Homo sapiens: one gene and its partner. The protein of the gene in region 1 interacts with the protein of each later gene in a biochemical or structural test. Each region holds a gene or a part of one and is shown in the gene's direction. Other genes may lie near its edges.

The links. Proteins that work in one complex are often made in the same cells at the same time.
Region 2: the proteins of CFHR4 (region 1) and CFB form a complex in vitro, tested with the Homo sapiens proteins (one study listed by IntAct).

Annotation. Positions count from the first base shown.
Region 1 is NC_000001.11:196,905,052-196,908,551, forward strand, and holds part of CFHR4 (complement factor H-related protein 4 isoform 1 precursor), read left to right. Parts: intron 1-56; coding exon 57-239; intron 240-1,809; coding exon 1,810-1,986; intron 1,987-2,251; coding exon of another isoform or gene 2,252-2,264; coding exon 2,265-2,447; intron 2,448-2,698; exon of another isoform or gene 2,699-3,500.
Region 2 is NC_000006.12:31,944,907-31,948,894, forward strand, and holds the start of CFB (complement factor B preproprotein), read left to right. Parts: upstream 1-1,188; 5' UTR 1,189-1,315; coding exon 1,316-1,379; intron 1,380-1,466; coding exon 1,467-1,700; intron 1,701-2,100; coding exon 2,101-2,286; intron 2,287-2,441; coding exon 2,442-2,615; intron 2,616-2,835; coding exon 2,836-2,937; intron 2,938-3,038; coding exon 3,039-3,175; intron 3,176-3,467; coding exon 3,468-3,606; intron 3,607-3,923; coding exon 3,924-3,988. Other genes in the region: complement C2 isoform 1 preproprotein, read left to right, coding at 74-123, 272-451.

The DNA of each region.
Region 1 (3,500 bases):
CTATAAAAGAAGTATTCAACAAATATTTACTTTTTTCTCTACTTTTTCTATTTTAGGAACATGCTCAAAATCAGATGTAGAAATTGAAAATGGATTCATTTCTGAATCTTCCTCTATTTATATTTTAAATGAAGAAACACAATATAATTGTAAACCAGGATATGCAACAGCAGAGGGAAATTCTTCAGGATCAATTACATGTTTGCAAAATGGATGGTCAACACAACCAATTTGCATTAGTAAGTTATTTACATATTCCCACTCAGTTTCTGTCAACTTCTTTCCTCTCTTTGAGGTGATAGTGTTTTACAGAAAAAGATAGAAAACACTTTTAGGAGTAAAGAGATATAAATACTTCTAACATCATCTAACATTCTGTGCCAAACTAAGTCTTTTTTGCCTTTTTAGAGTAATGGCTACTTGGGAAGATGATCATTCCATCTCTCTCAATTCAATTTGCCTTTACGTAAAAGCAATCCCATCAGGTACAGACTAGTTAGGGAGCTGCATGGGAATATCAGCACAATGTATTACTTGTCAATAAAAACTTTGTTCTTTTCCCTTTCTTTGTATTTCAAAATTATCAACTGCTTGTATTGTATTCCTTGCTCACACTCTTAAGATGTACATGTTAGGGAAGGGATGAGTGCTTAATTCTGAGTTTCTGCTAGCATCAGGAAAATGAGACTTCAATAATTTGTATCAATGATGCAACTGAGGAGAACCAACTCAAAAAATTATTTCCAGCTTATTGTCTAGTACAGAGAAAACAAGTAAAGAAAAAGAGTAAGTGGGTGGGCTGAATGTTTACAAACCTCATACTTGGCAATGGATTCCTTACAACTAAAGTTCTCTAAAACATTCCCAACTTGTAATTATTTATTAATAAAGAGATTGCATAATGAACAATGGAAACCTTGCAGTGGCAAAAGTTTATCTTTTTTGTCTTTCCTCTTTAGGCATTCACCAAGATTTGTAAAGATAAATCATTTAATGTATTTTTAACACACATATTGATATATAATTTACATACTGCAAAATCCACTTCATTTTCAAGGGTACAATTCAACTATTTTTAGCCATGAGACGAAATGGAAAGGACTACTGATATGTAATTGAACATGGATGAATCTCAAAAATATTAATCTAAGTGAGAAAAAAGAAAATGCTACACTTAGAAAGTGATTATCTCAAAGTTACTCTGAGGTTTGGGAGCTATAAAATATCAATTCGTACATTTCTAGAATACTGTTTTCAATTTCTATGCTTATCACGGGCTCTGCAAAAGACAAAGCTGTACACTTCAATCTGATTTGACCAGCTTTGATAAATGATCTAAGATTTGTAAAATAAAAGATGCTTTAAAATTTTTATAGAACGTATATCCAATGAATATAATTTTAATCCAACTTATAAACCCTGTCAGTAAACTGAGTACATAAATATGTACATTAACTTTTAAATTCACAAAATTTTATCTTCTTTAAAATAATACATTATAGTGATAAAGGTAGACTGTAATAACAGTCAATGAGGTGTTCACAAATAAAAATAGATCTGACTAAATAGTCTTAATATGTTTTTCATAGGGTTTGAATAATGAGAAGGATCATTATAGGGAAATGTATTTTTCTCTTGTAATTAACTGTTATAGCACAAAAAAAACACTGATTGTCGGACTATTTTTAATAGTACTCAATTTATTAGCACACACTGATTGGTAAATTTTATTCCTACAATGGGACTTTCTTAGTCGAGTTGTACATCATATGGCATAGAAAAGCAATCCTCAATTTTATTTTGTTTCAGAATTTTGTGATATGCCTGTTTTTGAGAATTCCAGAGCCAAGAGTAATGGCATGTGGTTTAAGCTCCATGACACATTGGACTATGAATGCTATGATGGATATGAAAGCAGTTATGGAAACACCACAGATTCCATAGTGTGTGGTGAAGATGGCTGGTCCCATTTGCCAACATGCTATAGTAAGTATTTTATTCAAGTATTTCTTTTTACTAGAATTAAACAAATAGAAACATACATATGTATATGTACACATATGTGTATGAATACATATGTGTACATATACATGTAGTCCTCATTTGAGTGTGAATTACCTTGAAACTTAAAAAAAAAGGTTGAAAATACAAATGTCTTCCTAAGAAATCAAATAAGATACATTTAAGAGTATATAAAAAGCTTTATTCAGAAAGTTTCCAATAAAACTGTTGATTTTTCCCCAATGTAAAGTATTTTTTTTCAGATTCTTCAGAAAACTGTGGGCCTCCTCCACCTATTAGCAATGGAGATACCACGTCCTTCCCGCAAAAAGTGTATCTGCCATGGTCAAGAGTCGAGTACCAGTGCCAGTCCTACTATGAACTTCAGGGTTCTAAATATGTAACATGTAGTAATGGAGACTGGTCAGAACCACCAAGATGCATATGTAAGTTCTTAATATTCTGGATCTGAGAAAATTAGAGTAATAACTTTGATCCTTGTTTATTTATACTAAAATTTTTATGGGTTATTACCCTAGAACTGTGTTCACAAACAGCTATTCTGCTGAATATTTGCCTTTCAGATCTTAATATATAAGTGTATAAGCTTGGAAAATTTTATGTAAACAATGACAAAGTTTCCTTTTAAAAACAGGAATGTTCAGAGACCTCAATTTGTTAATGGACACAATGAGTCTTCAAGAATGATATCCATTTATTGCACACATATGAAATACAGCATCTCACCTTAACATCAATAACCATTTTCACATTATTAATACTTAGGTAAACAGTTTTCAAAGAGTTTTGAAAACACTGTTTTAAAAACCATGGATGTGGAACCAACCCAAATGTCCAGACCCAAATGACAGACTAGATAAAGAAAATGTGGCACATGTACACCATGGAATACTATGCAGCCATAAAAATGGATACGTTCATGTCCATGTCAAAAGTGACATGGAGGAAGCTGGAAACCATCCTTCTCAGCAAACTATCACAAGAACAGAAAACCTAGCACCACATGTTCTCACTCAGATGTGGGAACTGAACAAGGAGAACAGGTGGACTCAGGGAGGGGAACATCACACACCAGGGTCTGTCACAGGATGGGGAGCTAGGGGAGGGATAGCATTAAGAGAAACACCTAATGTAGGTGATGGGTTGATGGGTGCAGCAAACCACCATGGCACATGTATTCCTATGTAAAAAAACTGCATGTCCTGCACATGTACCCCGAACTTAAAGTATAATAAAAACCATGCACTATTAACTAAAATCCTACTTGAAAACCTGAAATGCTTCCTGATAGAGCACATAGCTAGTTAACACTGAGAAGTTCTTTCTCTGATTATTGTTTTTTTCTTACACTTTACCAGTATTTCTAGCAAGAAAGAAAGAAATTAACAGAAAGCTCAGCCATTTCCAAATGCCAATGCTTTCTGTTTTCACCTTCATCTCCTCTCCCCTCGTCCCAGAATGAAAATGAATACACTAAA
Region 2 (3,988 bases), on another chromosome or scaffold:
TGGCCAGCATGCATGCCAGAACACCAGTCCACTGCCCTAGATGACACTGTCTCCTGTCACCCTTTGCTGGCAGGAGAATCTGGGGGAGCAGTTTTCCTTGAGCGGAGATTCAGGTTTTTTCAGGTGAGAAGGTAGAAGCTTGCAGGACCCAGGGGTTACAGGATCTCAGCCTTGTTGGGGGGATGAGGGAGGCCTTTGAGGGATCTAGGGAGGTTGGGGCTTACAGTTGGGGCTGTGGCAGCCTCCCAGCCAGTTCTCTCCTTTTCTCCAGGTGGGTCTGGTGAGCTGGGGTCTTTACAACCCCTGCCTTGGCTCTGCTGACAAAAACTCCCGCAAAAGGGCCCCTCGTAGCAAGGTCCCGCCGCCACGAGACTTTCACATCAATCTCTTCCGCATGCAGCCCTGGCTGAGGCAGCACCTGGGGGATGTCCTGAATTTTTTACCCCTCTAGCCATGGCCACTGAGCCCTCTGCTGCCCTGCCAGAATCTGCCGCCCCTCCATCTTCTACCTCTGAATGGCCACCCTTAGACCCTGTGATCCATCCTCTCTCCTAGCTGAGTAAATCCGGGTCTCTAGGATGCCAGAGGCAGCGCACACAAGCTGGGAAATCCTCAGGGCTCCTACCAGCAGGACTGCCTCGCTGCCCCACCTCCCGCTCCTTGGCCTGTCCCCAGATTCCTTCCCTGGTTGACTTGACTCATGCTTGTTTCACTTTCACATGGAATTTCCCAGTTATGAAATTAATAAAAATCAATGGTTTCCACATCTCTCAGTGCCTCTATCTGGAGGCCAGGTAGGGCTGGCCTTGGGGGAGGGGGAGGCCAGAATGACTCCAAGAGCTACAGGAAGGCAGGTCAGAGACCCCACTGGACAAACAGTGGCTGGACTCTGCACCATAACACACAATCAACAGGGGAGTGAGCTGGATCCTTATTTCTGGTCCCTAAGTGGGTGGTTTGGGCTTACTGGGGAGGAGCTAAGGCCGGAGAGGAGGTACTGAAGGGGAGAGTCCTGGACCTTTGGCAGCAAAGGGTGGGACTTCTGCAGTTTCTGTTTCCTTGACTGGCAGCTCAGCGGGGCCCTCCCGCTTGGATGTTCCGGGAAAGTGATGTGGGTAGGACAGGCGGGGCGAGCCGCAGGTGCCAGAACACAGATTGTATAAAAGGCTGGGGGCTGGTGGGGAGCAGGGGAAGGGAATGTGACCAGGTCTAGGTCTGGAGTTTCAGCTTGGACACTGAGCCAAGCAGACAAGCAAAGCAAGCCAGGACACACCATCCTGCCCCAGGCCCAGCTTCTCTCCTGCCTTCCAACGCCATGGGGAGCAATCTCAGCCCCCAACTCTGCCTGATGCCCTTTATCTTGGGCCTCTTGTCTGGAGGTAAGCGAGGGTAACCTTCCCTTCCTGCTGTCTCCAGCATCCCTCCTTGGCCTTTTGGGGCCAGGCTTCATCAGCCTTTCTCTTCAGGTGTGACCACCACTCCATGGTCTTTGGCCCGGCCCCAGGGATCCTGCTCTCTGGAGGGGGTAGAGATCAAAGGCGGCTCCTTCCGACTTCTCCAAGAGGGCCAGGCACTGGAGTACGTGTGTCCTTCTGGCTTCTACCCGTACCCTGTGCAGACACGTACCTGCAGATCTACGGGGTCCTGGAGCACCCTGAAGACTCAAGACCAAAAGACTGTCAGGAAGGCAGAGTGCAGAGGTTTGAGGGCAATGAGTGTGGGCAGTGGCCTAAGGCAGAAACAGGGCAGGCGGCAGCAAGGTCAGGACTAGGATGAGACTAGGCAGGGTGACAAGGTGGGCTGACCGGGAGTAGGAGCAGTTTTAGGGTGGCAGGCGGAAAGGGGGCAAGAAAAAGCGGAGTTAACCCTTACTAAGCATTTACCCTGGGCTTCCAGGCAGCCCTGGAAGTCAAGAGAACACTCAGAAATGGGGAGGGAGAAGCAGTGGAAATCCATATGGGTTGAGGAGTAGGTAAGATGCTGCTTCTGCGGGACTGGGAATGCGCTGTTTCTCAGTGACATGGTCTCCGAGACCAGGAGGGATACACCTAAGGCAGCCTTTCCCTCTTGATGACTTCTACTTGTCCCCCCTTCTCAAAGCAATCCACTGTCCAAGACCACACGACTTCGAGAACGGGGAATACTGGCCCCGGTCTCCCTACTACAATGTGAGTGATGAGATCTCTTTCCACTGCTATGACGGTTACACTCTCCGGGGCTCTGCCAATCGCACCTGCCAAGTGAATGGCCGATGGAGTGGGCAGACAGCGATCTGTGACAACGGAGGTGAGAAGCATCCCCTCCCCCTACATTGCTGTCTCCCTGACGGCGCCCAGCCCGAGGAGTGGGCACTCGGCTCCGGACACTGTAACTCTTGCTCTCTACCTTGCTCACGGGGCCTCAGGCTTCAGTGCTTACCTCGATGTCTCATACCTCTGCAGCGGGGTACTGCTCCAACCCGGGCATCCCCATTGGCACAAGGAAGGTGGGCAGCCAGTACCGCCTTGAAGACAGCGTCACCTACCACTGCAGCCGGGGGCTTACCCTGCGTGGCTCCCAGCGGCGAACGTGTCAGGAAGGTGGCTCTTGGAGCGGGACGGAGCCTTCCTGCCAAGGTGACCTTTGACCTGTACCCCCAGGTCAGATCCTGGTCTTCCATCCTACTGTCTTCTCTCCCCACCTCAACCCTGCTCTTTCCTCACTTTGTTTAAACCTCCCTGTACAACTATCTCACTTCTGAGCCTTTTATACCCTGGAAACCCATGATCCCCCGTCTCTTTGGTCACTGTATCCCTGACACTCCCAGACATTTGACCTCATTTCTGACTCTCCCAGACTCCTTCATGTACGACACCCCTCAAGAGGTGGCCGAAGCTTTCCTGTCTTCCCTGACAGAGACCATAGAAGGAGTCGATGCTGAGGATGGGCACGGCCCAGGTTTGAAGACAGAGAAGGGAGGCAGGGCAGGGAACTGGGGGAAAATGGAGAAGGGACAGAACTGTTAATGCTGGAGCCTGAGCCACTCTCCTGGCACCCAGGGGAACAACAGAAGCGGAAGATCGTCCTGGACCCTTCAGGCTCCATGAACATCTACCTGGTGCTAGATGGATCAGACAGCATTGGGGCCAGCAACTTCACAGGAGCCAAAAAGTGTCTAGTCAACTTAATTGAGAAGGTGGAATCCTCCTATCCCTGAACTCGGGGGAATGGAATCTCGCTGATCTTCCAGGACTAGCTCCCTGATCATTCCAGCCCCTCTGAACAACAGGGCCCCAGGAAAATCTCCAGGTCCTATTCTGTCCTCCTTCCCTTTTACTTGAAGCAGTTTCTTGACTGGTAATTCCTCCATGAACCTCAGCCCTTGAGCCTCTTACTGAGAGCCTCCCTGTCCCAGCAAAGTCGCTGAAATCTCCCAATCACAGTATTCTATTTTCAATGCCATGGCGCCTTGTTCTCCTCACCCACAGGTGGCAAGTTATGGTGTGAAGCCAAGATATGGTCTAGTGACATATGCCACATACCCCAAAATTTGGGTCAAAGTGTCTGAAGCAGACAGCAGTAATGCAGACTGGGTCACGAAGCAGCTCAATGAAATCAATTATGAAGGTCAGAGGTTAGGGAATGGTGGGAGGTTCACTTTGGGGTCAGGAGGTTCAGGGTGGAGGGGGTCATGAGACTACCTTGAGGGCGACAGGGAGGACCACTTTGTAGTCAAAAGTTGAACAGCAGGATCGTTGGGCAATGGAGGTTAGTGGGAACCTGTTGGGGGCTGGAAGGGCCACTTTGTGGTCAAAGGGAAGTCCGTGTAATGATGATTAACTTAAAAAGTTGAAAGATGTGGGATTTCAGTTGCAGATTGGTCTCTGGGGTTAAAAGATGGCTTGGAAGACCAGGTGAGGTGATGGTCTCTTCCCTCTCCACAGACCACAAGTTGAAGTCAGGGACTAACACCAAGAAGGCCCTCCAGGCAGTGTACAGCATGATGAGC